Linked DNA regions of Homo sapiens: region 1 is linked to region 2. Evidence: fine-mapped expression QTL. A gene starts in region 2. The other region holds a variant in brackets. All regions are shown on one strand. Distances are from middle to middle. Region 1 overlaps LINC01993 (long intergenic non-protein coding RNA 1993). Region 2 holds the start of SOCS3 (suppressor of cytokine signaling 3).

Evidence for each region. PIP is the estimated chance that this variant, and not a neighbour inherited with it, causes the effect.
Region 1: its variant is fine-mapped to the expression of SOCS3 in whole blood (INTERVAL, PIP 0.99).

Annotation. Positions count from the first base shown.
Region 1 is chr17:78,249,737-78,264,452 of GRCh38, forward strand. LINC01993 (long intergenic non-protein coding RNA 1993) reads right to left here. Exons shown (of 7, transcript NR_073178.1): 6 at 13,511-14,486; 7 at 11,613-12,177. LOC105371910 (a long non-coding RNA gene) reads left to right here. Exons shown (of 2, transcript NR_164160.1): 2 at 1,486-2,755. It also overlaps the pseudogene THA1P. Among named protein-coding and RNA genes, the nearest start is that of LINC01993, 21 kb to the right of the region's middle. RefSeq lists enhancers at 3,667-4,385, 4,386-5,103, 4,654-4,923, 8,228-8,277, 8,288-8,607 and 4 more, silencers at 4,474-4,623, 9,018-9,067 and cis regulatory regions at 6,821-7,279, 8,779-9,367. The variant G/A (reference allele first, on the strand shown) is at 8,179.
Region 2 is chr17:78,354,721-78,369,436 of GRCh38, forward strand. SOCS3 (suppressor of cytokine signaling 3) reads right to left here and starts at 5,357. Exons shown (of 2, transcript NM_003955.5): 1 at 5,030-5,357; 2 at 2,058-4,463. The coding sequence starts at 4,375. The coding sequence ends at 3,698. It overlaps SOCS3-DT (SOCS3 divergent transcript), which reads left to right and starts at 5,728. Exons shown (of 5, transcript NR_110847.1): 1 at 5,728-6,053; 2 at 7,953-8,031; 3 at 12,473-12,546; 4 at 14,008-14,173. RefSeq lists enhancers at 1-361, 1,560-2,059, 2,117-2,766, 4,713-5,361, 8,719-9,296 and 4 more and silencers at 1,794-1,981, 4,469-4,708, 5,119-5,398, 5,409-5,718, 5,779-5,978 and 1 more.

The DNA of each region.
Region 1 (14,716 bases), 100 kb before region 2:
GGGACATGCAGGGCCAGCACCACGTTCATCAGCTGGGCCCTGTCCAGGTGGACCCAGGCCCCATAGGTCTGGGCCAGGAGGTGCACCTGGGGGTGAGGTGCAGGCAGAGTCAGAGGGGCCAGGCCTGAGGGAGGCATAGAGGGAGGAGGGTCCTGGGCTTAGCTGCCTGAGGAATCAGGAGGGATCAGGAGACCTGGCTGGTGACTGGCTCTGGTGATCTGGGACCCAAGCAGTCAGGCTGTGCTGCCTAAGCCTCCATGCTGGGCTCTGGGAGGATCTGGGGGTGCACATTTAACCCAGCTTTGTCGCACACTGAGCATGGGCCAAACGACCGTGGGCCAAGGGTAAATGTGTGTCACCTCATTTAGGCTGCACAACAACTCGAGGGAGACGCCGCTGCTCCCATTTCACAGGCAAGGAACGCAAGGCTTGGAGAGTTAGGCTGCTGCCTAACTAGTGTCTGGTAAACAGCAGAGCTCAGACACTGCGGCCTCCTCACCTCGCACGTGGGTGGCAAGGACCAGGTGGAGGGCACTCACACGAGCTTGTTCCTGCAGCCTCATGGGGCACACGTTTCTGCGCCAGGGCAGCAGGTCCTGGTGCTGCTCTGGGACTCAGCTCTGGGGACTTGGGGGTGGGGGCATCTCTGCTGTTGGGCTGGTGCAGGGACTAGGGGCCCTGACCTGGGGTAATAATTCCCTTTGTGTCTCAGCCTAGGACCACACATGTGTCCTTCCTGTGACAGGTCTGGCCGCTGATGGGTGCCCATGGCATAAATCAGAGGGGACTGAACCCCAGGATGGGCCAGGGGCACAGGAAGCCAGGATCAGGCTGGTGGGGGGCACACAGTGGTGGGGCTGGGCCTACCTGGCGTAGGTAGTTGATGGGGAGGATCCGGACCCCCGAGATGCTGTGTGAGTTCTCCAGGCAAATGAGCTCGCAGACCTGGTGGTAGGGACTCTGGAGGCCCCGCGTGATCATCCTCTCCAGCTCAGCCAGTCCAGAGTGCAGTGGGGCAGCTCTGGGAGGGAGTGGGAGTGCACTCCAGCCCTCTGTGGGTCAGGAAGAGGATGAGGGCTGAGGGGTCCAGGGGCACCTCTTGGCGGAGTGGGGGGCTCCTCTGGAGTAAGGAGCCAGACCCTGAGTCCTGTGTCTGCTCCCCCGAGGCCTGGGCCTTGGAGCCTTTCCTCTGTTCTGTGCATCTAGACAGACGTCCCAGCTGGGGGGCACTGGGCCCCTCCCCTATTAACTCTTCAGATGCTGCTGTCTGGCTCCCGTCGGGAGCGCGGGAGTGCTCCGAGTGTCCACTAGAGGGCACCAGGCACCAAGCACCGCCCAGGTGTCTGCCCGGCAAGCCTGGGGCCAGCCCCAGCCGCTGCCGCCCCCACGTGGCAAATCTGGGGCTCTGCTCTCCTTCCTTCCTCCCCTGGAGAGGCTGCCATCCCAGCCAGCTTCTCCATGGCTGTCCCTTTCTCCCCTCCGCAGGTCCCAGCCTGGTGCCTGGGAAGGGGGTTTGCCCCTGAGCAGCCTGTGCTGGCTGGAGGATGCCCAGGGCCCCAGGTGAGCAATGCCTGCTCCTTACCTGAGCCACCCCACCCTGCTCATAGACGTGGAGGTGGCACTCCTGCCCAAGGAGGAGCTGGGAGCCCCGGCGCCAGCAGTGACACATCACTGAGACAGAAGGAGGGCAGGTCTTGGCATTGAGTCTGGAGGCATGTGGCCCTGCTCAGCGTGGCTAGGCTGAGCCCTAAGGCTACAGTCAACTCACAAATGCCTGAGGCCGGCAAGGAAACAGCACCTTCAAGACACCTCAGTGCTACGTGCCAGAAGACCATCCCATTAAACACACAAGTCTAGGATAGCTGTGCTGCGCTGGGAATCGCTGGGCCACACCCAGCCTGCACACCTGCGCCTGGAGGCCCCTCCACAGAGCATCGCCTGCTGGAGAAGCTGCTGCAATGCTGCTTCTTGGTGGACACGCAGCCGAGGCACCTGCAGTCGTCAGACCCTGGCAGGAAACAGACGGCACACACACACTGGGAAACTGGCAGTGTTTAATCATGGGACGGTTTATAGAGGGGAGGCAGGAGCAGGGAAGCCCGGAGAACAGGCCTGAGGGGTGAGAGGAAGGTGTGGCTGCAGGAACCCGGAGCCAGGGCTATGTGGAGAGGTCCCTGACGCTGGCCCAGAGGCCCTGGGGACCCTCGGAAGAGGAGCTAGGGAGGAGCAGACCTGCAGCCCCCACTGTCCTCCTCCCCCATCTCCTTCCAGGGCTCCCCACCAACCCAACAGAAATGGAGGAATGTGGTCCATGAGTGTCAGAGCCCCCCCATATGCACTGAGGACCTGCTAGGCAGACAGAAGTCGCCCTGCGCTCACCAGAGATGAGGTTGGCCATAGTGTTGGAGGGCACAAAGAGGGTGCGCCCCAGCCCTAGCAGCTCCACAGCCATTTCTTGCAGCTCTGCGGAGGGACAGGGAAGCCGCTGTGCTTGCACACTCGGGTGTCAGCACCGTCCATGCTGCTTTCCCTGTGTCACTTGGGCCAGAGCACGCCCTGAGCCCAGGTGAGGCCCCTAGCCCGAGGCTCCGGTGAGCAGCTGAGTGGGTTTGGAGCCCCATCCACCAGCTGCACACTCTGTGGGCTTAGCAACCACACATCCAGCCCCACAGGGCCCTCAGTCAACTCTGCACCCCACCTACCCTGGGCCATGGCCTCTCCCCGCTCCCCCCAAGAACCTCTCTTGTGGTTTGAACCTGTCCCCGGCAGACCTCACACCTGTCTCACTTCCTTTCCCCTCAGCCCTTTGCAGGTGGGGCCTGTGGTTTCTCTGCTGACTTCCTTTCCTCGTCAGGAGGGATGAGTGGGGGGCTGGACGGGGTGTGAGGGTGCAGCTGGAGGGTGAGGAAGGCTCCCGCTCTTGCTGTAAAGCCCACTGTGGTCCCCCCAACTGTGGCATCAAGTCCTTAGCATGACACTCAGGGCTGGAGTGACCTGGCCTCTGCCCCCCCTCCTCAGAGCCTCCTGCACTCTCCACACCTGCCACATCCCCACCTGCGCCCTGAAGACCTTTCTCACCAGTCTGCTTCTGCTCCTGAAGACCCCTGCCCTGTGAGCCGGCGCTCCCTTCCCTGCCTGGGATGCTTCCACTCAGCCTGCAGGAGGGCTCCTCTGTGAAGCCCCCTTCCCCGTGAGCCACAGCCTCGCCCCATCCTCTGCTTCCCAGGGCACCCTCTCTAGACTCCCATCAACTCAAGCGCCTCCCCAGCCTCTCCTTGAGCGGCAGTGACTTGTTGACATGTGAGGCTGCCTGGGAGCATGGAGATCAGCATCTCCAGCAACGCTGGGCAGCAGCTGGATACATGCTTAGCCCCAGCCATCCCTTAACCCCTTAGCAGACGGGCCCTCGGGATTCAACTGGTGACCCCATGGCTTGTCCTGGCCTAGCTGAGGGGTGTGCACACCCCAACAGTCAAAGTGGTTCACTATGGCAACTCACAACCCAGGGCTGGGGCTGGGGGTCGCTGTACCCTGGAGACACTCCCTAGGTTATTAGAACCCACTCCTTGCGAGGTGCAGCCTGTAGAACCTGCCCCTTTCTACATCTATTTTCCATTTGCCTTCTGTGGGGGAAGGCAGTGCAGGAGAACAGTTGTGGGTTTCAGAGTCAGAAGACCCGGGTTCAAACCTTGGTTCTGCCATTTACTAAGTATGGGGCCTGGAGCGCCTCCCTCCACATCTCAGAACCCTCCTCTGCAAGACTGGACATCACCCATCTCAGGGGGCAGCTGGGTGACAATGCAGGACACACACAACCACCTGGTGAGCCTATAGAAATGCAGGTTCTTCTCGGCAGGCCATGTGAATCTGCATTTCTTTTATTTATTTATTTTTATTTTTATTTTTTTTTTTTTGAGATGGAGTCTCGCTCTTGTCGCCCAGGCTGGAATGCAGTGGGACGATCTCAGCTCACTGCAACCTCTGCCTCCCGGGTTCAAGTGATTCTCCTGCCTCAGCCTCCTGAGAAGCTGGGATTACGGGTGCCCACCACCACGCCCAGATAATTTTTGTATTTTTAGTAGAGATGGGGTTTCATCATGTTGGCCAGGCTGGTCTCGAACTCCTGACCTCGTGATCCGCCTGCCTTGGCCTCTCAAAATGCTAGGATTACAGGCTTGAGCCACTGCGCCCGGCCGGAATCTGCATTTCTAACTTTCAGGTAACAGCAGCACGCACGCAGACGGCAAGCCTATCCTGTGGCAGGTGTTCATTACACCCATTTATGTCGGAGGTTGCAATTTTTTGAATTTTTGCCATCAGACCTTGGCGATGACCTTGAGCAGTAGGACATAAATACCTCCCAGATGCTTAGCGTTCCAATAATGGAACACTAGGCATAAATGGGTTTTAAGCGCCAAGGGAGCCACTTCCCCTGCGTCCCAGACCATCACGGACAGCGCTCCGCTGCCGCCTCCACGACCCCCGGCCTGCACGCCGGTCTTCGCCGTAGTCGTCGTCCCCCACGACCGCCTCGGCCATGACGCACCTCATGGCCGGCCCGGGCCTGGTCACCTTGTCGCTGCGCAGGCCCACCACGTAGGCTGCGACCCCCGCGCTCCCACACCCCGCCCGGAGCGCCCCATGTACCGGGGCCGCCGCTCGGGCCAGTCTGCGGAGCATGGCGCGGGCAGCGCCCGACTCCCCACCCCGGCGGGAGCTGCTGACTCCTCTACTCCCCAGCGAAGGCGGCGAGAGCGACGTGGTCGGTGCGGCCAGAATTCCTAGAGCTGGGAAGCAGCCGCCCTGGGCCGGGGGTCCAGGGAGCGAGCCCCGTGGCACGCTGGGAGTTGTAGTTCGCGCTCCCTCGCGGCGGGCGTGCGCGAGCGTCTGCGAACGGGCCCCGTGGCACGCTGGGAGTTGTAGTACGGGCTGCGTCGCGGCGGAGAACCAGCGAGCCCGTGATGCTGAAGCAGAAGGTTCTGCTCATTGAAGGAGAAACCGAGGCCGAGCGAGTGTGTGTGTGTGTGTGTGTGTGTGTGTGTGTGTGTGTGTGTGTGACAGAGTCTCGCTTTGTCGCCCAGGCTGGAGTGCAGTGACGCGATCTTGACTCACTGCAACCTCCGCCTCACAGGTACAAGCAATTCTCCTGTCTCAGCCTCCCGAGTAGCTGGGATTACAGGCGCGCGCCACCACGCCCAGCTAATTTTTTTTTTTTTTTGTATTTTTAGTAGAGAGGAGTTTTCACCATGTTGGCCTGGCTGGTCTCGAACTCTTGACCTCAGGTGATCCACCCGACTTGACCTCCCAAATTGCTGGGATTACAGGCGTGAGCCACTGCACCCAGCCCTGGGCGAGCTTTTATAACACAGACGCTCATGTGGCACTTGCCATGTGCCAGGCTCTGCCCCAGGCCCTTTGCAAATGTTAGCTCAGTTAAACCTCCCAACGACTCTAGGAGACAAGCACTATTGCTATCCCTGTCTTGCAGATGGGGAACAGGAGACGCGGAGCTAACGGACAGCTGGAGGCCACTTGGGTAGGAATTGGTCCGGGCGGGGTACCGCTGTCTCCAGAGGGCAGCCCTAAATCACTGTTTCATGCTGCCCCTAAAACACAGCTTCCCTCGTTTACCATCTTCAGTATTGATTTGTTGAGCAAGTTCGGTGCGCCAGGCAGTGTCCAGGTGTCCAGGTGCCAGGCTGGGGGACAGGGCTATGTCTCCAGCCGGGTTCCAGTCTAAGGGGAGACCGCTAAAAGAATGCGTGGGGAGCCCCTCCTCCATAGGCCCCTGCCCCTGGGTGGACTGCCTCCATGGGGGCAGGGTGGTGCTGAAGTTCAAGCCAGCTGTGTGGCCTTGGACAAGCCATGTAGCTTCTTTGTGCCTCGGTTTCCTCAACTGCAGATTGGGCTGTTGTGAGCATTCAGTGACTGGATATGTGTTTGGTGCTGACCCCAATGCCTGGCTTGCTGTAAGCTCAGGGTGGTCACCCCACTGTGGCTGTTTTTTAATTTTTTAAGACAGGGTCTCACTCTATCCCCCAAGCTGGAGTGCAGTGGTGTGATTACAGCTCAGTGCATTCTTGACTTCCTGGGCTTGGGTGAACCTCCCACCTCAGCCTCCCAAGTAGTTGGGACTACAGGCAAGTGCTACTATGCCTGGCTAATCTTTCTGTGTTTTTCGTAGAGACAAGGTCTTGCTGTGTTGCTCAGGCTGGTCTCAAGCTCCTGAGCCCAAGTGATTCTCCCTCAGCCCCACAAAGTGCTGGGATTACAGGCGTGAGCCATCACGACCTGCCCAGCTGTGGCTGTTATTATCATTGTCGTTACTGATCCCAGCTTGGAACTCTGAGGGCCCGGGGGCTTTGGGGTGAACTCTGACACAGTCTAGACTGTGGGGTGCCCTTCCCCCACACAGGGAGCACAGGCACCCATTGCCACTCAGCGGCTCCTCTTCCTCTTTCTGTCCCCCATAGGAGAAAGATCCAGGAGGGGCCACAGCTGCTGGGCCAAGCGTCTGGTGAGGGTGGCCCTTGGTGAGGAGGACACCCATCCTAGATCAGTCATGGCCAGGCCTTTACCACAGGCCAGCTCCAGGTCAGGCCTGGGGACTTAGGGCGAGCAGAGGTGGCCTGCCCTCCAGAGCTCAGGTCCCAGGGGTGGGGGACAAGATGCTGGCCGTGAGAGGATGGCAGCGAGGAAGCAGCTCTAACAGTCCCAGTCCAGGCAGCAGGGCAGGCTTTTTGGAGGAAGCAGTGATTAGGCTGAGCTTCGAAGATGGAGCCGACTTTGGACAGAGGGATAGCAGGGGTGAAGCCTCTGGGTAGAGAGGAGCTGCTGCGTTTGTGGCCCTGAGGGCCAGCGTGGCTGGGGAAGTGAGCAGGGGTGGGGATGGAGCCCAAAAGCTACATCCGGGGCCTGATGACCTCTCAGGGGCTCTCCATCTCTCTTCCTTCAGCTTGGTGGGAATTGTAAGTACCCGCAGGGTCAGTGGTCCCAAGGACACCCATGTGATGGACAGGCTTGCTGCCTTCCCCTCCCCAGAGCCCTTCTGGGCCTGACCCACAATCTGCACCAAATTCCTGCCCTTAGAAAACAAGCCCCTTATCTCATTGTCTGGCTCCAGACCTTCTGCTGGGAAGTAGGGGGCGGGGAACGGAGGCCTCTGTGGGAAGGAAAGGAGGTGGTCTGGCGGGGCAGGGACTGGGGGCAGGGATAGCAGCGCTCAGGGGAGAAGGGGGACAAACAAATGGACCCCCGGCCCCTCGAGCTATGGCAGAATCACAGAATGGCCTCCTGTTTGCCAAGCTTCGCAGTCTGCAAAGCCTGCCCTCTGCAGCTTCCCTGCCAATGGTCCCAGCGGCTTTGCAGTGGAAGGATGGGCAGGGAGGCTGGGGTCACAGAGGCCCGAGGACCCTGCCCGAGAGGCACAGCTGGTCACCCAACAGGGCCTTTCTCCCTTTCTCCCAAATCAGAGCTGTCTCCCCAGATAGGTGGCCTCTCCCTGGGGGAACCTGGGGCAGAACAGTTTCCTTCTTCTGGGTCCTCCTATCTAGTCCCCGGGTCACCTGGGCCAGCCCTGCCTTGTCCCAGTGGGGTCTGACAGTGTGGAGGAGCAAGAAGGGTGGGCTCTCACACGGAAAGGTGCAGTGAGGCCTGTGGCAGGTGGACCCCATGACCCCAGCTTGGCCTCTGGGGGGTTGTCTGGGCTCCTACATGTGTGTGTGTGCATGCGTGTGTACATGGGTGTGTGTGTGTGTGTGCATGTGTGTGTGCGCACGTGTGTGTGTGTGACCCTGGCTGCAACTGAGATCTGAGTTGTCTTGCTGGTAAGCTGGGGACGGGCCGCAGTTCCCAGGCTGGGATGAGAAGCCCAAAGCCCTCTGTGGAGCCAACTCTACTTGCCCCCACCCCTGTCCCAGCACTGACCCTCTTCCCTCCCCTCTCTGCAGTTCTTCTTGACATTCTCACTAGAAGGGTCACCATCACTGGAGGTCCTGGGGTCATCTCCTGCCCCAACGCAGGCTGGCCCCACCCCCACATGCCAGCTGCTCCCTTCTCTCCTGAGCCCCTGCCCCCCAGGACTGACCCCTGCAGCCCAGCCCTTCCCAAACTTCTGAGCTCCTCTGTCCGTGGGTGCAGTGGGGCCCCTCGGCGGGGCTTCCTCCCTGGCCTCTGTGG[G/A]ATCCAGCCCTTCTGCCTCCCAGACGCCTCCCCGCCCCACACTCTGGCTTGCAACACTTCTGTTCCCGAATGCGCTGGCCTCTCTTTCACCCCGAGACCTCTGCACCTGCATTCTGTCTGGAAAACCCCCAACCGTCGGCACGCATCCCTGGTCACCACCTTCTAAGTCTTCAGATCTTAGCTGAGACGCCTCATTCTCCATGAAGCCCTCCTGGCCCAGCCCAGTGGGGGATGGAGGTAGCCCTCCTCCTGTGCTGCCTATAGCACCTTTTCTTCCCACTGCGCACGGGTCACAGCTGCCTGTTTACTCCTCTGACTTCTCCGTGTGGCTGATGCCCTGTGCCTGCAGGGCCCAGACGCCCTCCTCCTTTGGTGTGTCCTGCATGCCTAGCCCAGTGCCAGGACCACAGGACTCAGTAAACACCAGCCAGGTGACTGACAATGGAGGGACATGTGGTTCGCCATCCCCTGCCCCTGGGACCCCCCAGGCAGAAGTGTGCACACCCCCCAGGGTGTGAGACCCCTGTGCAGAAGGACATGGCGAGGATTCCAGAGGAACAGGGGCTGGCCTGGCCTCAGCCTCTCAGAGTCAGGTCTGGGGGTCCTGAAGACAGCCCCCTCCCTGGCCTTCTTGAGAGATTTGCGGCTCCCCTGAGCAGTGGGAGGCCACTGGGCTGGCTGGAGGGGGCCTTGCGACATAAGCCCCAGGTGGGCTGCCTTTCACGGCGCCCCCGGCTCCCTGGCACCCGCCCAGGCGCAGGCGCTGGGGTGTGGGCACACACTCACATGCTGAGTTCAGTGTGCGGATTCCTGTAACGCTGGGCTGCTGGCAGGAAGTGCGCGCCGGGGAGGCTGCTGCTGGGAACCCAGGGCTGGCCCCGCTGAGATAAAGGGAGGCAGCAGATCGCAGCTGGAGATAGCGGCCCTGGGTCCTGGTAAACAGGTGGGGGGGGTGGGGGGGGGGAAATGTCCTTTCCATCCCATCCTCTTGGCCCTGAGCCTGCAGGATCTATAGCGCCCTAGCCTAAGCCCAGCCCCGATAGCTTGGGATCCAGAGGGGAGTTGTCGGCACTGCCATCATCATTCCCAGCCTGGGGGACTGGGTGGCAAAGGACAGGGCGCTGGGCCTGGGGGCCTGGCTGGGCCCATGGTGGGCATGCACTTGGCCCACGTGGGGGCCACTGGGTGTCAAGGTCATGTGTGCTGTTGGGAGGGTGGGAAGGGGAAGGGAGGGAGCTCCTCCAAGCCCCTGCACTTCCCCAACTGGGACCCCCTAGTGGGAAAGATGTCCCTCTCCAGGTTCGCCTTCAGCACCATCTCCGGAAATCCAGAGTGAGGTGCCATGAGGGTGCGAGACCGGGAGAGAATGGGGGGTGGAGTGAGGGGGGCGTGAGGGCTGTTCCCCAGCCAGGTGCAGAGCAGGGGGGCTACAGAGCTGGGGAGACCCTGTGCATGACTTCAACAGGAAGCCACAGGATGTTCACCTGCACTCCATCAGCTCACCGTGGGCTAGCGGGAGCTCGGCATGGCCCATCCCCAGTGCCCAACACAATGGGCGCTCAAATACACTTGCTTGTTTAAAAAATTAAGAAATTTACCACGCATACAGAAATGCTCATGAAGCATATTTGTACAGTGTTATGAATAAATACATATAAAATAAACTCCCGTGCCATAGCCACTCAGACCAATAAATAGTCCATGGTGGGGCGTGGTGGCTCACGCCTGTAACCCCAGGGCTTTGGGAGGCCAAGGCGGGTGGATCACCTGAAGTCAGGAGTTCGAGACCAGCCTGGCCAACATGGAGAAACCCCGTCTCTACCAAAAATACAAAAAATTACCCAGGCATGGTGGTGGGCGCTTGGAATCCCAGCTACTCGGGAGGCTGAGGCAGGAGAATCACTTGAACTCGGGAGGCAGAGGTTGCAGTGAGCCGAGATCGTGCCATTGCACTCCAGCCTGGGCGACAGAGCAAGACTGTGTCTCACACACACACATACACACAAACACAAACACACACACACACAAAAGAAATAGACCATGGCCAGGATTCCAGAAGCTTCCTTCCTATTTACAACCCTTCCCTCTGCAGAAGTTACTGCTGCCCTGACATTCTTCTTCATATATATATACACATATACATATACATACACATATATGTATACATATATATACACATATATATACACACACACATAGATAGATAGATAGATAGATGATAGATAGACAGATTTGAGATGGAGTCTAACTATGTTACCCAGGCTGGTTTCGAACTCCTGGACTCAAGCGGTCCTCCCACCTCTGCCTCCCAAATCTCTGGGATCACAGATGTGAGCCACCAGGCCTGGCCTGGCCTGACTTTTATGACCAGGACTTGCTTTTCTTTATGATTTTGCCACCGTAGATGTATCCCTTAATAGCAGTTGAGTGTTGAGTGTGGCCTGTGTGTGAACTTTACAGAAGTCGAATCAGGGTGTCTCCTTTTATGTCTGGCTTCATTAGGCTGTTTGCAAGAGTCACCCGTGCTGTGGCTGTCATTTATTCTCTGCTGCCAGGTACTTTTCCACTGGGTCCCTAGAGCATAGTTTATTTCTCCATTCTACCTGTTTAGGGACATTTGGGATTTTGTTTCCAGACTGGCCATGTACGGTGGTGCTGGTGGGCATTCTTATTCCTGTCTGCTGGGGCACAGGTGCCTGCTTCGGGAGGGCGGACGCCTGGCGGTGGGGCTGCTGATTCTGGGGTCTCTCATCTGCAGCTTTACTAGGTGTGCCAAATCCTTTCCCAAAGTGCTGGAAATGCCCTCCTCCCCCACTTTCCCACACTTCTCCATCTCGGTAACACTAGTGTTATCAGACTTCTTCATCTTAGCTGTCCTTGTGATATGTGGTGATATCTCCTGGCAATTTTAATCTGATCTTTTTTTTTTTTTTTTCTTTGATGGAATCTCACTCTGTCACCCAGGCTGGAGTGCAGTGACGCAATCTCGGCTCACTGCAACCTCTGTCTCCCGGGTTCAAGCGATTCTCCTGCCTCAGCCTCCCGAGTAGCTGGGATTACAGGTGCCCACCACCACGCCTGGTTAATTTTTGTATTTTTAGTAGATGGGGGTTTCACCATGTTAGCCAGGCTGGTCTTGAACTCTTGACCTCAGGTGATCTGCCTGCCTCGGCCTTCCAAAGTGGTGGGATTACAGGCATGAGCCACCGTGCCTGGCCTCTTTTTTTTTTTTTTTTTTTTTTTTGAAGAAACTGAGTCTTGCTCTGTCACCCAGGCTGCAGTGCAGTGGTGCAATCATAGCTCATTGCAGCCTGAACTCCTGGGCTTAAGCAATCCACCCCCATCAGCCTCCCAAGGTGCTGGGATTATAGGCATGAGCCACCACACTGGGCCCTGCTCTTTCTGTTAACTGCTAAAGGAGAGTACCTTTTATTATTTATTTATTTATTTATTTATTTTTTGAGACGGAGTCTCGCTCTATCGCCCAGGCTGGAGTGCAGTGGCGCGATCTCGGCTCACTGCAAGCTCCGCCTCCCAAGTTCACACCATTCTCCTGCCTCAGCCTCCCGAGTAGCTGGGACCACAGGCGCCCGCCACCATGCCCGGCTAATTTTTCTTGTATTTTTAGTAGAGACGGGGTTTCACCGTGTTAGCCAGGATGGTCTCGATCTCCTGACCTCGTGATACACCCGTCTTGGCCTCCCAAAGTGCTGGGATTACAGGCGTGAGCCACCGCGCCCAGCCCCTTTTCTTATGTTTTAGCCGTTTGAATTCCTCTTTGTGAAGAGCATGTTCTGGTCTTTTCTCATTGACTGGTCAGGCTGGTTGGTATGTGCAAGCATACTGATCCTTGCGGGTTCTGTGCGTTGCAAAGATTTCACCCCAGGGCTGGGTGCAGTGGCTCATGCCTTCAATCCCAGCACTTTGAGAGTCCAAGGCGGGCGGATCACAAGGTCAGCAGTTCGAGACCAGTCTGGTCAACATAGTGAAACCCCATATCTACCAAAAATACAAAAGATTATCTGGGTATGGTGGTATGTGCCTGTAATCCCAGCTACTTGGGAGACTGAGGCAGGAGAATCACATGAACCCAAGAGTCAGAGGTTGCAGTGAGCAGAGATCGAGCCATTGCGCTCCAGCCCGGGCAACAGTGCGAGACTCCATCTCAAAAAAAAAAAAAAAAAAATTTCCCCACAGTACAGCTGCGGTGGCTCTCGCCTATAATCCCAGCACTTTGGGAGGCCAAGGGACGGGGATCACTGGAGGTCAGGAGTTCGATACCAGCCTGGCCAACGTGGTGAAACCCTGTCTCTACTCAAAATACAGAAATTAGCCAGGCGTGGTGGCACATGCCTGTAATCCCAGCTACTGGGGAGGCTGAGGCAGGAGAATTGCTTGAACCCAGGAGGTGGAGGCTGCAGTGAGCTGACATCGAGCTACTGCACTCCAGCCTGGGTGACAGAGTGAGACTCTGTCAAAAAAAAAAAAAAAAAAAAAAATTTCCCCCGTGCTGTGGTTTGTCTTTTTTTGTTGTTATTGTTTGAGACAAGGTCTGACTCTTTTGCTCAGGTTGGAGTGCAGTGGTATGATCATAGCTCACTGTAGCCTCAACCTCCTGGGCTCAAGCAGTCCTCCGGCCTCAGCCTCCAGAGTAGCAGGGACATACCACCATGCCTGGCTATTTTATTTTATTTGCAGACATGAGGTCTTGCTATGTTGTCCAGGCTGGTCTCAAACTCTTGTCCTCAAGCAGTCCTCCCAACTTGGCCTCCCAAAGTGCTGGGATTACAGGCATGAGCCACTGCAGCTGGCTGGCTTTTCTTTTTCTTTTCTTTCTTTTTCTTCTTCTTTTTTTTTTTTTTTTTTTTTGAGATGGAGTCATGCTCTGTTGCCCAGGCTGGAGTACAGTGGTGCGATCTCAGCTCACTGCAACCTCCACCTCCCAGGTTCAAGCGATTCTCTGCCTCAGCCTCCCCAGTAGCTGAGATTACAGGCACCGACCACCACACGCAGCTAATTTTTGTGTTTAATAGAGAGGGGATTTCACCATGTTGGCCAGGCTGGTCTTGAACTCCTGCTCTCAAGTAATCCACCCGCCTTGGCCTTTCAAAGTGCTGGGATGACAGGTGTGAGCCGCTGCACCCGGCCCCGCTTCTGTCTTTAGATACGGTTGCAAGCTGTGGTGTGTGTGGACAGGGGAATGGGGACTTAGGGATTGGGCTGGGGGGACCCTCAGGAACCCCTCTACTGCCTTCCAGGTGTCCCCAGCTTGGGCTGAGACCAGGGCACCCCCTTGTGCCTTCTGCCCCCACCTGCTCCCTCCTGGGCCTACCAGCCTGCGGCCGCACTGGCTGCTGACAGCTGGGACGCTGGGGTCTGGCGTTATTTACTGCGGCAGCTTCCTCCTCCTTCCAGGAACTTGTCCTCTAACTTGGGGCGGCAGCGAGGCCTCTAATCTTTCGGATCTCGTTTACCGGCATTGGCCTCTCACTTCCTGTTGCTAGGCCTGGACCGAGGCACGGGGTCAGCTCCGTGCACTGCGCCTTGCCTGTTGCCGGGGCCTCTGTTCTGGCCCCTCGGCAGGGAGGACAGAGGGTCAGATGCCGGGCCTCAGGCACAGTGGCCATCTGGGGTAGGGCCAGCTCCACAGAGGCAGGGGACCCAAGGCTGAGCCGGCTGTGGGCTCTGCTTCCTGGAGTCCAGGGTCCAGCACGGGGACCAGGTTATTCCTTCGCTCCTCCTGGCTTGGCAGAGCGTCATGGAAGGTGGCCTTCCCCAGACTCCCCCACATCCCCTCCTCCCACTTCTGCAGCCACCAGAGCCAGGGCCCTTGTGGGAAAGGACAGGGAAGTCTCAGGAGTTTGGGCACAGACAAGATCCCTGGAGACCGTGGGGTCTGCTGCCCTGGAGATGTGGAATCCCAGGCCTTGCCCACCTCCTCCACCCTGGGTGGGTTCCCCAACCACCCAGAGGAGTGCTGGCATCTCGGGGCCACCAGGGCATGGGCAAGAGTGGCTGCCCAGCCCCTGCCAAGGGCCTGAAGCCAGCGCCAGGCAGACCCTGCCTTGTTGAGCAGTATCTTCAGTAAGGGCTCTGTGTGCCGAACACCTGCTGTGCGCCCTGCACACTTATCCCAGAGATGGGATTCAAACCCAGGTTGCCCAGCGCAGAGAAACAGCATTCTCCTTCTGCATCCGTGAAGGAAGCTTTGTCTTCTAAAAGCCCTAGCCCTTCTGTTACCTTGTCCTCAGCCGGCCTGCTTCTGTCCCTGTGCCATAAGCCAGATGAATTTCTCTCCCAGGCTGGCCCTGCAGAGGATGAGAGATGGCCCTTGTTAGAGGCACCCTGGGCACCCCAGGCATGGCTCCCCAGCTGATGATAGAACAACTGAGACAGACCCGGCATGGTGGCTCACACCTGTAATTCCAGCACTTTGGGAGGCCGAGGCAGGCGGATCACTTGAGGTCAGGAGTTCGAGACCACCCTGGCTAACATGGTGAAACCCTGTCTCTACTAAAAATACAAAAAATTAGCCGGG
Region 2 (14,716 bases):
AAAAAAAAAATTAAAAATTAAAAATAACTGGCCGTGGTGATAATGTGCCTGTAGTCCCAGCTACTCAGGAGGCTGACGTGGGAGGATTACCCAGACGTGGGAGGTTTACCCAAACCCGGGAGTTCAAACCTGCAGTGAGCTATAATAGCGCCACTGCACTCCAACCTGGGTGACAGAGTGAGACCCTGTCTCAAAAAACAAAAAAGTACAAGGACCCCAGGTTCACGGTTCCCTCATGGCTGTTATTCCAGTGAAAGGGGAACTCTGTGCAGCTGAAGGCAGTGGTGGCTGACCAGCAGACCCCAGGGCGAGGAAGACTCATCATCCTTCTGGAAGGCACTGGGGAGCCACACCCCACTGGGCCCCCTCACCTGCACTTGTGCTTTGGGAAGGTGGCCCTACCTGGGTTTACATTGCCAGTCTGGAGTTCCTTCATGATGCCTGTGGTGTGGCTCCCATATGCTCTGTCCCCTCAGCCGCCTCGTGCCTGGCCTGGCCCCTTCTCGTCACTTCAGGTCATTTTCTCCAAAAGTCCCAGGAAATAGGAAAGAAAAACGACTTTGTTTATTTACTCTCTGTTGCCTTTTGGACCCCGATTCCTGGAGCAGTATATTGGGTGCAAGGGGGCCAGGAAGAGGCTCTGGTATTTGTGTCATCTGAGAGAGATAAGGGCCCCTGACTTGGGGTTAACACTCATTTCCCAGCTGTCAGGTCACGGGGATCAGAGAAGGAGGCATGAAAGGAGAATACCTCAGAGAAGGTGGTTTTGTTTTTGTTTTTGGTTTCTGTTTTTTAAATGGAGACAGGGTCTCGCTATATTGCCCAGGCTGGTCTTGAACTTCTGGGCTCCAGCCCTTAGCCCACCTCGACCTCCCAAAGTGCTGGATTACAGGAGAGAAGACGTTTTTTGCTATTAGAAGAACCCTAGTGCTGAAACCCCAGAGTTGGGGGGAAGGGTACTAACCTCTTGGCTTTTAAGGAGGGACTCACTCCGGGGGCAGGTATATGCTGAGTGTATAGAGAGGCAGAGAGGCATGGGCTTTGGAAATCAAATGCTCCTGGGTTCCAATCCTGTTTTCCCCATATTCCCAAGTGGTGTGCCCTTGGCCAGGTTGCTTAACCTCCCTGAACCTGAGTTGCTGCCCCTACTTAGTTGACAAATATTTACTGAGCACCAATCTAGGCACCAGAAGTGACCAGTCCAAGTCCTGGCTCACATGGGGCACGTGGCCATGTCTGAGAACATGGGGATGAGAATGCCTGCCTTGTGGGAGCAGGTGGGATGCTTAATCCAGGTAACCTCTAAGTGCCCCTTAGTGTTTAAATGAGAGTGACTAAAAATAGATGGGCTGAGGGGAGGATACCTTCAGCCCGGGAGCTGGAGACCAGCCTGGGCAACATAGCGAACCCTGTTTCAAAAAAAGAGAGAGATGAATAGATGGGTGCTTTTTGGGAGGAGGGTGATCCTGTCCGCTGCTCAGGTTGGGGCCCCTAGGAACGGGGAAGGGAAGCAGGCATGGGGAGCAGTGGCCAGGAAGCCCCTGAATGCCTGGGGTCCTGTGGTGGGGGAGGGGGTGGGGCTCCACCTGCATGCAAGATTTGCTTCAGGACCACCCCTCCCCCCACTTCCAGTGAACCTGGCTAGACTGAGGTCATAGGTCACCACTAGGACCCCATGTCTGGGCTTTCTCGGAACGACTCCCTGCCAAGGAACCAGAGCGCCTCTAATAGCCTGGAGCCTCTAAAAGCTTTGACCACAGCTCAGCTTGCTCCCTGCAAGCCCTTTGAAGCGCTTCCTTCGAACTTGCTTTGCATATTCTGGTCAGATCTGAATCAGACTTGCAGGAATTACCCCTCTCGGTAAGTCTAGGTGGCTGCCTTAGCTTGTCAGTGACACACGAGGCAGGCGTGCTGACGTAAGGCTGAGACGTATTCGATTCCACCCTCTGCGGCTCTCTTCCTCCTCTCCGATGCAGAGTGTGGGTGTGGGTGAAAGAGAAAGCAAGGCACGGGGCGGGGGGCGGGGGGGCAGGGGTGCAGAAAAGGCTCAAGTCATGTTTTTCATTAAAAAATAGTGCTCTTTATTATAAATTACTGAAATGTTTCTTTTCTGAATATAAATATAAATATGTGCAAAGTTTGACTTGGATTGGGATTTTGTTGAGTTCTTCAAGCATCTCCTAATAGCCTCAAGGGCCTGAGTAGGGGGGAGGAGAGAGGACTGGAGGTGGAATCTTTATAAAAGACAGAGTGATTGAGGCAGATTGTAAACATTATTAAAAAACAAGAAACAAACAAAAAAATAGAGAAAAAAACCACCCCAACACACAACTGCCCTGTCCAGCCCAATACCTGACACAGAATACTTTGTGTTTGTTTAGTTGCCCCCCCCCACAAAAACAAAAACAAAAACAAAAACAAAAAACTGTTCCAGGTAATTCCATCGCTGCTACATTCCTGTAAATTGTCACTGATCAGTGCTATGGCAGAGCGGGAGCACCCGGGGTGGCAGCAGTCCAGCCTCTCCAATGACCTCCAGCCTCCCCCACCCAGGCAGGAGGGAGGGCTGTGCAGGGCTCGGGGCAGTGGGACCTGGTGGCTCTGCTCTGACCACGAGGCGCCTGACTGGCCAATACTTACTGGGCTGACATTCCCAGTGCTCAGCTGGGAGGCATGGGTTTCCGCCCCCCCTCCCCACTTCCCTGGCTGTGGGCTGGCTTGGTGCCCTCCAGTGAGTCCCTCAGCCTCTCCACCCATCCAGGCTGAGTATGTGGCTTTCCTATGCTGGGTCCCTCTCCATGGGACAGGGAGCATTTAAGGCGAATCTCTTAGCCAGACATAGTCAGGAGGCACAGAGTAGAATCCCCTGTCTTCTCTACCAGGAGCCTGAGGTGAAAGATGTCCCGTCTCCTCCATCCTCCCGCTCCATCCACCCAGGTACAGGAAGGTATAGTATGAGTAGGAAAAGGAGACCAGCTGACCAGCCCATCCATCCCCTCCAAATGTTGCTTCCCCCTTAAAACGGAGGAAGGGCCCTGGGCTCTCAGGCACCAGGTAGACTTTGGAACCTGTGTTTTCGGTGACTGTCCCGGAGGAGAGGATGTGGGGTACCAGGATGGTTCCCTTCAGGTCACCCCAAGCCCTTCTCCCCGGAGCCAGGGAGAGGAGCATGTCACCAGGATCCTCGCCTGGGGTGGGCGGGGGGTGTGACCATTTCCTTCGCCAGCCCGCAGCCCTGGGGCCCTCAGGACCTCTCTCTCTTCCACCTTTCCCAGGCTCCACAACCAGCTCAGGTTTAAACCAAATCAAAGAGCAAACAAGTTCCGTTGGAAAGTTTGAAGATTCCCTGGCAGTTCTCATTAGTTCAGCATTCCCGAAGTGTCCCCTGTTTGGAGGCAGAGGGGAAGCTGAGGAATTGAAGGAGAATCCACTTGTGGTTGCTATCGTCCCACCAGGACAGCTGGCTCCTCCGGAGAAGCTGGAGACTCAGGTGGTACTCCCCCTTCCCTCCAACACATTCCAGGTCCGCCTGCCACATTCTGCAGGGAGAGGGCAGAGGGAGGGGCCTGTCCGCCCTCTTTCCCCCCAGAGCTACAGGACTCTCTCCTGGTTGGCTTCTTGTGCTTGTGCCATGTGCCACGGAGGAGAGGGGCCTGCGTCCCCTCTCCCGACCCATGCCCTTTGCGCCCTTTACCCCTTAAAGCGGGGCATCGTACTGGTCCAGGAACTCCCGAATGGGCCCCGGCAGCTGGGTGACTTTCTCATAGGAGTCCAGGTGGCCGTTGACGGTCTTCCGACAGAGATGCTGAAGAGTGGCCACGTTGGAGGAGAGGGGCCGGCTCAACACCAGGGGGATCTTCTCGCCCCCGGAGTAGATGTAATAGGCTCTTCTGGGGGGACTCCCAGGGAGTGGCTGGGCAGACGGCTGCTCGGGCACCTCGGAGGAGGGTTCAGTAGGTGGCGAGGGGAAGGAGGGGGCTCCAGGGGGCGGCATGTAGTGGTGCACCAGCTTGAGCACGCAGTCGAAGCGGGGCACGGGCTGCGTGCTCCGGGGATCGCTCTGCAGAGAGAAGCTGCCCCCCTCACACTGGATGCGCAGGTTCTTGGTCCCAGACTGGGTCTTGACGCTGAGCGTGAAGAAGTGGCGCTGGTCCGAGCTGTCGCGGATCAGAAAGGTGCCGGCGGGCTCGGCACTGAGCAGCAGGTTCGCCTCGCCGCCGGTCACTGCGCTCCAGTAGAAGCCGCTCTCCTGCAGCTTGCGCACTGCGTTCACCACCAGCTGGTACTCGCTCTTGGAGCTGAAGGTCTTGAGGCGCAGGCTGGTGTCCAGGGGGCGGCTCATCCCGGCGGCGGGAAACTTGCTGTGGGTGACCATGGCGCACGGAGCCAGCGTGGATCTGCGCGGCGGCGGCTGCAGCTGCTTCGCGGCCTCCGCACAGCGGCCGCTACCGCATCCCGGGGGGCTGCGGAGAGGAAGGCGCGAGCGCGTTGAGTGCCCGGAACCCTCCAGCGCGCCCGGCCCGCCCCGGCTCCCCTGCCTTCGCCGAGCGACTGGGGCACCCACTGCCCCGGGGGCCCTCTCCTGGGCCCGCGCTCCGATCCAGGCGCCTCACGGAGCCCGCACGGCTCCCGCCCCTGCCGGCAGGGTGGCCCCGGGCAGCCCCTTCCCAGGCGCGCACTGCAAGGGCGCAGCGTGGGAAACTCGCGCGCGGAAGTTAGGTCTCCAGGAGTGTGGCCGGGTGGGGAGCAGGAGAAGGGCCCCCGGGACTGCCTGGGCGCCGCTCAGTCCAGTAGCCCCGGGCGGTGTGGACGGAGGGAGAAACCCGAGGCACGGGGGTAGGGAGGGGACAGGAGAAGCCCGAAGGCCCCAGCCGGAGTATTCCGGGAACCTGGGATCTCCGGCTTCCATCCGCTCTGCCCCTACCTCGTCACCTCCCTGCCGGGAATGACCCGGGAAGGGGAGGGGAAACCGGGAAAAGCTCCCGGGACTGAGCGAGACCCCTCCCCACGCCGCGCTCCTCCTTCCTACCTGGTCCCGAATCGAAGTCTCCGTCCTTGGGGCTGAGCCCCCTCGGGTCCCCAAGGCGACGCGGCGGCGAGACGGCCAGCGGTGGCCCGCGCTGCGCCCAGATGTTGGCGGCCGTGAAGTCCACAAAGGAGCCTTCGCGCGCGCGTCCCTCGAGCTTCCCCTGGGCGCCCGCCCTGCCCCCTGCGCACCCCCGGACCAACCGGGAGGGGACCAGGAGAGGGACCGCGGCAAGGGGCCGCGGCGGGAGCTGGGCCGGGCGGGCGGCTGGCGGCTGGCTGCGTGCGGGGCCGAAGCGGCAGCAGCGGAGCAGGGAGTCCAAGTCGGAGCCGCCGCGGAGGCCGCGCTCGCGGGTATATAGGCGGCCGCCGCGCCCCGCCCCCCGATTCCTGGAACTGCGCGGCCGGCCTTCTTGTAATGTTTAGTCACTACTCGCAGCAGAGAAAGGCTGAGCGCGGAGGGTGAGGGAGGGGCCGCGGGCGCCGAGGGCGGGCCGCGAGCAGGGGCAGGGACCGGGAGGGACGCGCGCGGAGACAAAGCGCGACGAGAGGCGGCCGAGGCGGCCGGTGGGCGCGGCGCCAGCCCCGGCGGCGCGTTCCTGGCAGCGGCCCCTCCCCGCCGCGCGCTCCGCCCCCAACTTCTCATTCACACTTTCCCCCCACCCCCCTCCCTTCTAAGAAGGCTGATTTCTGGCAGAGGCGGGGGCGCCGCTTCGGGAGAGCGGGCAGTTCTAGGAGGCCGACCTGGAGAGCCTCCCGGTTCCCCTTCCCCTTTTCCCGGACCCCGCGGGGACACCCCCTCGCCGCCACCCGGGCCTCCCCGAGGGCCCAACTGCGGGTCAGGCGGCCCGGGCCAGCCGAAAGGGAAGTGGGGCTACCCCACAGCCAGGCAGCGGGGCTGGGGTCAGACCCGGGAGCCGGAGGTTGGAGACGTGCGACAGTCACCTGCGGGCAGATTCCAGAGGGGAGACCCAGGGCTGCAGGGGACGCCCCTTCGTGGCAGCTACCCAGCCTCGGCCCACTGCCAGGTTCTTTGCCAACCCTGACGCGAGTGTGGAGCCCCCCTCCCCTCCCCTATGAAAACGCTTTCATGCACTGGGGTCTGCAAACCTGGTTGGTCCGGTGTGGGTTGGGCCAGGTGCTCTCGGCCGGGCTGGAGAGCTCGAGGTGGAACGATGGCCCCAACCTACGGCCCGCGTCCGCCAGAGGGCGCCCTGGGGTCTCCTAGGGGAGGGCAGTTTGGTGCTGCGCGGCCCAGGCCTTGGAATAGGCACGCCAGGGATCTGCGGGAATGGCTGTCTCCGGAGCTGGAAAGGTGGCCGAGAAGGGGGCATTCACACCCCAGGCTGGGGTCAGACCTGGGAATAAAATTCTAGCAGGAGAGAATTTCCGGAAAGCAGTTTTCCGGGGTTCAGGCTACTGCCAGATGGCCCACACCCCCTGGAATGTGACCCCCTGCCTCTCTTGGGGTGGGGGAGGACTTGATCACTGGCGGGGAGGGGGTAGAGGGGAGGAGAGGAAGTGATTGAGGTGAAAGATTGGTTTGCTGCTGGTCACGTTGGCACTGACGTAGATAGTTTGGGCTTGGAGACCCGGGGCCAGCCTTATGAAGGATGGCAAGTTTTGTCATCTTGTCCCCAAATGGGCTGTGTGGTGCTGGGGACACCCGAGAGCTGCCTCAGTGGCATTTAGATTTTCACCTCTCGGGATGCAGACGCTGTGGGCCTGGGGCCCTGCGCTCTTCCTAGATACCAGGATAATGAGGTGCTGAAAGGGAAGGAAGAGACTGCCGCCAGGGACAGGGAGCTTGGGATGCCAGAACCCAGAACTGGCCCTTTTGCCGGCCCTGGAATTGATAGGTGCGCACTGCCTTTGCCACTGTATCCTCAGTCCGTGCCATCACCTCTCCCCAGCATGTGCTGGGGACTCAGTGAGATTTGGACAAGACACACAGTTTCTCTGGGCTTCCGTTTTGCCACCTGTAAAACTGGAGCCAGAACCTTTTCCTTCCCTTTGGCAGGCGGAGGCGAGAGGATCACTTGAGCATGGACATTCAAGACCAGCCTGGGCAGCAAAGTGAGCACCCCCATCTCTGCAAAAAATAGAAAAAAGTTAGCCAGGAGTGGTGGCCTGTGCCTGTAGTCCCAGCTGCTTGGGAGGCCAAGGTGGAAGGATCGCTTGAGTCAGGGAGGTCAAGGCTGCGGTGAGCCATGATCGTGCCACTGCACTTTAGTCTGGGCAACAGAGTGAGACCCTGTTAAAAAAAATAATAATAAAATGAAATAAAAAGGGCCGGGCATGGTGGCTCATGCCTGTAATCCCAGCACTTTGGGAGGCTGAGGCGGGTGGATCACGAGGTCAGGAGATCGAGACCATCCTGGCCAACATGGTGAAACCTCGTCTCTACTAAAAATACAAAAATTAGCTGAGTGTGGTGGCACATGCTTGTAATCCCAGCTACTTGAGAGGCTGAGGCAGGAGAATCGCTTGAACCAGGGAGTCAGAGGTTGTGGTGAGCCGAGATCGCGCCATTGCACTCCAACCTGGCGACAGAGCTCTGTCTCAAAAAAAAAAAAAAAAAAAAAAAGAAAGAAAGAAAGAAAAGAAAAGGAAGAAAGAAAAAGAACCTTTTGCCATAAGAGATTTGAAATTAAAAAAAAAAAAAGATTCTGCACATCAAAGCGTGATAGAAATAGAAGTAACCCAGTTAGTTCAACTCTCCCTCCAGCCTATCAGGAGAGCAGAGGAGGAAACTGGTTTATTCAACACATTTCACAAATATTGAGCTCCATGCACCAGGCACTGGGCTGGGCATTGATATATAATGATGAGTAGGACCTGGTCTTTGCCCTCACAATGCTTGCAGGGTAATGAAATGGATTCTCCTTCTCTCTGTAATCAGTTCATTCTTTTTCTCATCCATTCAGTGTTACGTGGCTGCATGACCATACACTTCTGGGTAGAGCCCAGTGGAAGACAAAGAAGACTCAAGGAATAGCCCTTGAGGTAATGGATGAGAAAGTGCTTTGTAAATTACAATGCTCTGACACAAGTCAAGTTCATTCATCCATTCCATAAACCTCTGCCGAGAGCCTGCTTTTGCCAGGCACAGGGCGAAGTGCTGGAAGACAGAAGTGCTGGGTGAATCCTGCAGGGGGAGATGGCCAAGGCAATCGGCATGGAGCCCCCAGGTGATGAGTGAGGTGGGAGGTGCGGGGCTCCCTGCCTGCTCATCTCAGCAGGAGATCCAACTGCTGTTCGGGCTCTATCACCCAGTAGCTGTGTGACTTTAGGCAATCTGCCTTACCAGCTGTGCCTCGGTTTCCTTATTTGTAAAATGGTTGGAGAGTAGTACCTACCTCACTGAGTTGTCTGGAGCTCCCACATGCAAAATGCTTAGAGTGGTGCCTTGCACATAGGAAGTGCTCAATGCATATTAACTGTCATGATTTTGAAAGCACTGGGGAGGCTTTGAGGAGAGGGAGGAGTGAGCTGAGCTGCTGCAGCTTGGGCTCATAGGGTTGGCTATGGATGTAAGCTGCCTTGTTTTGGGGAACCGTACATCTCCTATGGAAGATACATTCCAAAAAGCTGCTTGTCTTGAAACAGGTCAGCCAGCCACCAAGCTTCTTTTTTTTTTTTTTGAGACGGAGTCCCACCTGTCACCCAGGCTGGAGTGCAGTGGTGCCATCTCGGCTCACTGCAACCTCCGCCTCCCAGGTTTAAGTGATTCTCTTGCCTCAGTCTCCCGAGTACTTGGGATTACAGGCATGTGCCACCATGCCTGGCTAATTTTTTTGTATTTTTAGTAGAGACAGGGTTTCGCTATGTTGGCCAGGCTGGTCTCGAACTCCTGACCTCAGGTGATCCGCCTGCCTTGGCCTCCCAAAGTGCTGGGATTACGGGCATGAGCCATCGTGCCTGGCCTTCCCTTTGGCATTCTAATCTCTCCCATGGTTTCCCATCACTTTCTGGATGAATCCAGACTCCTCGGTGCAGTGTGTGTCCCACGCTGCTCCATGTCAGTTTCATCGGCTGCCACTGCCTCAGCGACTGGTGCCTCGTGCTCTAGCTACATGGAGCTCCAAGCTGTCCAGAAGGTAACGTTCCTCAGTCCTGGGTTTCTGCACATTTGCTTCCCTGTCTGGGGACAAGGAGGGAACTACCTTCCACACCTTGGCTGATTTCTACTTTTCCTTTAAAATTTGGCAGACGGGCTGGGCGTGGTGGCACGTGCCAGTAATCCCAGCACTTTGGGAGGCCGAGGTGGGAGGATTGCTTGAGCTCAGGAGTTTGAGACCAGCTTGGGCAACATAGTGGAGACTCCATCTCTACAAAAAATTTTAAAAATTAGCCGGGCATGGTGGTGCGCGCCTGTGGTCCCAGCTACTCAGGAGGCTGAGGTGGGAGGATCGCTTGAGCCCAGCAGGTAGAGCCTGCGGTGAGCTATGATTGTGCCGCAGCATTCCAGCCTGGAAGACAGAGTGAGACTCTGTCTCCAAAAAAAAGACGGAAAAAGGCAGACACTCTAAACTTCCAGGTAGCTCTTTTTGCATTAACCAAAATGTTCTGACTATATCTCCAGTGAGGATCTTGGGGAAACAGACTATATTTGATTTTTTTTTCTTTTTAAGACTGGAACCTGGTACGTAGAATGAATCTCTAAGTCAAGGATGATGTTGACTTCTTTCCATTGTTTTTAGAGACCACAACCTGCTTTCTTCTAGAGTACTTTTTGGTTTTCCATGCAGGGCTCAGGAGCTATACAGATGGGATAGAGGGTGTGAGTGCTGGGAAGCCCCATCCATGGCTCGCTGGAGATTAGAGGCCTGTTAATCTGAAGACAAAGGAATGAAGACGAAAACGTTTCTGAAAATGTGGGTGGAGACACCTGGGCCTTTACAGGGTACGCTCCAGAGCTGCTTCCAGGCAGGGACCCCGGCTGAGAGAAGCCAGAGCCAGAGAGTCGCAGGCTTGCTTGCTCTTATCTTCCCTCTGCTGGGGGGGTCGAGGGGAGATCTGGCCCCTCTGCTCTGCCCTCCTGATTTCCCGTCTAAGGGATTTAGGAGACTTTTGCCTTTTCCTAATCTCTCCCTTTGCAGAATTTCTGCGAAGTCACAATCCCATTTCCAGGCAAAGGTGCTTGGTCATAAAGATAATAAAGATATTCATTCATGATGGAGGGGAAGTACACAGTGGTTTCAGCTGCCTGTAGGGCTCCACTTACTCATGGTGTGTGACAGATGCTGAGCCCTTCCCCAAATCTCATGGATGGGAAGGAAACCTGGCGCCGCGGGGTGGTCGCGGGAAGCCGTGGCATGGCTTGGTGAACACAGGCTCGCCGACCCGGGGGCGGATGCTGAGGTTGCCATTGTTGGTGGCTGCATCTGCAGTAGACGGGTCGGGATGCCGGCCTCAGACCACAGCGTTGCTAAATGCCAAACCCAAGGCCTCCCCGTCTTTAACACTGCTGGGCATTCTACAGCGCAAGGAGGCAGCTGGGGCTGGACTGCCCAGTGCCTGCCGTTGACTGTGCGTCTTCTGCCTGTGAGCTAGCCTGCCACACCTGGGGATACACGGTGGGGAAATCAATCAGCTTCCCTCCCTTCTAGAGCTTCAGGTCCGGCGTTGGTGTCTAGAGGCAAGGGGAGGAGGCAGGGAGGCCTCTTCTTTTCTGTCCCCCTTTCTCTTGGCCAATTTGGAGGAGATGGTGGGGGACCTGTCTCTCATCTGACCTCCTGGAAGCCCTGCCTGCTGCTCCAGTGTGGCTCTCCCAGGGCTGAGGCCTGGAACCTAGGGCTGGGCTACCTGGGGTGCTCAGCTCTGCCGCACCCCAGCCCTCCTCGGCTGCAGCCCTGGCTTCTTTTCTTACCCACTGGGATGGCCCGTGGGACTAACCTTGCAGCCTGCAGGACTATGGCCCAGATGACCTTTCCGGAGCAGGGGAAGAGTTCACAGGTCTCAGACCAGGTTGACCCCGAGCCCTCTCTTTCCTGCTTCGCATAGGGGCGGGCCAAGGGAGGCAGGGACAATGGCATTCCTGTTTGCAGGCCTTTGTTCCCGCCAGGAGGGCCCCCGGAGCTAATAAAAAGGTTTGTGGCTCCGATGTCTAAGAGGCAGTGGAGGAGTTCTTTCAAGCCTGACATTCCAGGCCCAGCCGGCCTCTGGCATTTCCCAGAAAAACTTCGAGGAGGGGAGGGGAAAGAAAACACTTGAGGGACCCACCCACCTACCCACTGCCCGCCTTCTCGGATTCCTCGTTCCCTCTGGGGATTGGGCTGGGCCGGAGTGCCAGGACCCCTGCCCTGGGGGGCCCATTCCTCCACCCACAGAGGGGCCCTGGGAAGTGTTGAGAGGGTGAGAGTGGGTAAGTGGGGGGTGACTCTAGGAGGGTGCAGAGAGGATGAAATGTTGGGGGCGCAGTGAGAAGAGGAGGAAAGTTTCTTCCCACTTTGTCAAAAAGGAATCCACATCTGCTACAAGTTTGGAGTTGGAGGGTGGGGAGTGAGGAGTTAGCTCCTAGCCAATATCTCCTCTGACCCCAAACCGACAAATGCTGCTCTGTCCGAGGCTGGGGTGGGAAGAGTTTTTATTTGCCCTGAAGCAGCTGCGGGAACAGACATCAGGGCAGCAGGGCAGTTCTGGGAAGTGAGGCTGTGGTGAACCATCTGGGCGGCAATGCAGACGAGGCAGTGCCCAGGACGGGGAGAGCCCGGGAGGGGGCGAGGAGGCCATGCTGTCTCTGGGAGACGTGCCTCTTGGGATGTCCTGGGCCCAGGCGCCCTTGGAGAGGCAGGAGCTGGTGGGGGACCAGCTGAGTGCAGCTGTTCGGCTCGCCCTGCAATACTGCAGTTGGGCTGGCTGCTGGAGCCAAGTGGTCACGGTCAGGTGCCCTGACTCTCCTGGGGCTCTGGGGCAGGTGCTCCTCATGACCATGGTGTGCCTGCAGCCTCTGGTCAAGCTCCTGCAGCCCGGGCGCAGGCTTCCTTCTGAGCCTCTCACCCTCTGGGAAGTCCCTGCCTCCTCCGCAGTGTGAAGCACCCCTGGTATGCACTGTGCCGTGCACTGATTCTTGGGCAAGTTCAAATAGAAAATGATAGGCTGGGTGTGGTGGCTCACGCCCGTAATCCCAGCACTTTGGGAGGCCAAGGCTGGTGGATCACCTGAGGTCAGGAGTTCCAGACCAGCCTGGCCAACATGGTGAAACCCTGTCTCTACTAAAAATACAAAATTAGCTGGGCGCAGTGGCGCATGCCTGTAATCCTAGCCCCTCAGGAGACTGAGGCAGGAGAATCGCTTCAAACTGGGAGGTGGAGATTTACAGTGAGCTGAGATTGTGCCATTGCGCTCCAGCCTGGGCGACAAGAGCAAAACTCCGTCTCAAAAAAAAGAAAAATGTAAAAGCAAAAGAAAAAAAGAAAATAATACCCTCTCTCTGGCTCCCAAGATCCTGAACCAACTTTGAAGGCAGAGAAGTGGGCTAGAAGAAGTGGGGTTGGAGCCTCCACCAAGGACAAGAAGGTGAGACTCTAAGGCGTCTAAGGTGAAACTGGGGCAGCTATCCCCACGTGTTCCTTCCTCCCTCCCCCTTGCCGGCACTGTACTCACTGGGCCTTAGGCTGGTGTTGTTCAGAGTTTCTTAACCTGGAGCATGTGAACTGCCCCTTCCCAGGTTTCATACTCCCCCAACAGCCACTCCCCCGATAATTGCAAACAAAATGCTGGTGGAGGGTCAGGCCCCTGGGGGCTGCAGGACCTGCCTGGAGTCACTTCTTGCCCCTGCAACACTTGTTTTTTGTTTGACACAGTATCAATCTGTTGCCCAGGCTGGAGTGCAGGGGCGCAATCTCAGCTCACTGCAACCTTTGCCTCTGGGGTTCAAGCGATTCTTCTGCCTCAGCCTGCTGAGTAGCTGGGATTACAGGTGCACACCACCACGCCTGGTTAATTTTTTGTATTTTTAGGTAGAGACGGTGTTTGCCATGTTGCCCAGACTTGTCTCGAACTCCTGAGCTCAGGCAATCCACTGGCCTCGCTCTCCCAAAATGCTGGGATCACAGGCGTGAGCCACTGTGCCCAGCCATAACACTTATTTTATACTACCATTTATTCCTTGAGTAGTTATTTATTTATTTATTTATTTGAGACAGAGTCTTGCTCTGTCGCCCAGGCTGGAGTGCAGTGGCACAATCTTGGCTCACTGCAACCTCTGCCTCCCGGTTCAAGTGATTCTCCTGCCTCAGCCTCCTGAGTAGCTGGGACTACAGGCGTCTGCCACCACGCCCGGCTAATTTTTGTATTTTTTAGTAGAGACGGGGTTTCACCATATTGGCTAGCCTCCTGACCTTCTGATCCATCCACCTCAGCCTCCCAAAGTGCTGGGATTACAGGCATGAGCCACTACACCTGGCCTTGAGTAGATATTTATTGAGCACCTGCTATGTGTCAGGGATTGAGTTAGGTGCCAGAAATTTATCAGTCTCGGATCTCATGGAGCTTAGATGTTTTTCCAGAAGGACAAGATTCTTCCAGAATTATATCGGGATTGATTAATTTTGACTGTGCTGCATACTATGAAGAAGTCCCAGGAGCTATGTGAGCCTATTATGGGGAGACCTAATCTATTGGGGGGACAACCAAGGGGGATTCCCTGAAGAAGTAACACACGTAGGCTGATGGGAAGCTGAGGTCTAGAGAGGTCCCTGCCTGGTGCGAGGTCTCCCAGTCAGATCGTGGCAGAGCTCCAGCTGGTGCCCAGGTTGGTTGACTAGACTCCCAGGCTTTCCCCACACACAGGCTCGTCTGGCCTCCCTCCAGGCCACTCGGTGGCATACACAGGGGAGGGGAGGATGGAGAGCTGGCAGAGGCAGGGAGGGCCTGCTGGTGGGACAGGCATTCTCCTGGTGCCACATGCCCGGGCCTCTGCTGCCCACTGTCTTTTCCCATTCACTTCTACTTCACTCTCCCTCTCACTCCCCAAAGGCCTTAGCCCCCTGCTTCCAGCTCAAGCTGAAGTGGCTGTGAGCTGAGCTAAGAAGACCCCACTTCGCCAGGAGGAGTGCCTCACGCCTGTAATCCCAGCACTTTGAAAGGCCGAGGCAGGTGGATCACGTGAGGTCAGGAGTTTAAGACCAGCCTGGCCAACATGGTGAGACCCCTTCTCTACTAAAAATACAAAAATTAGCCGGGAGTGGTGGCGCGCACCTGTAGTCCCAGCTACTCAGGAGGCTGAGGTGGAAGAATCTCTTGAATCGGGGAGACAGAGGCTGCAGCGGAGCTGAGATAGTGCCACTGCATTCCAGCCTGGGGGACAGAGTGAGACTGTCTCAAAAAAAAAAAAAAAAAAAAAAGAGAGAAAAGAACCCATTTAATTCTACCTGTGGGAGGTGGTTCAGGCATTTGTGGAACTTTGCAAATTGAAAACATAGTTTGTGAATACCTAAGACAGCCCCATAGGTCAGCATTCAAAAGGTGCAATCAGGTGAGCCAGAGTCTTCCCCTCCTATTCCCTGGCTTCCTGTGCCACCTGGGGCATTTTTTTTTCTTTTCTTTTTTATAGACCAGAAGATGCAGGCTACTGTGGGCACAATGCCTATGAATTAGCCCTGCTCTGCAAGAAGCAGCCAAAAAAAAAAAAAAAAGATGCAGAGTGGTGGCATGTGCACGGCTGAATGCAGTCTGTAGACGCAGT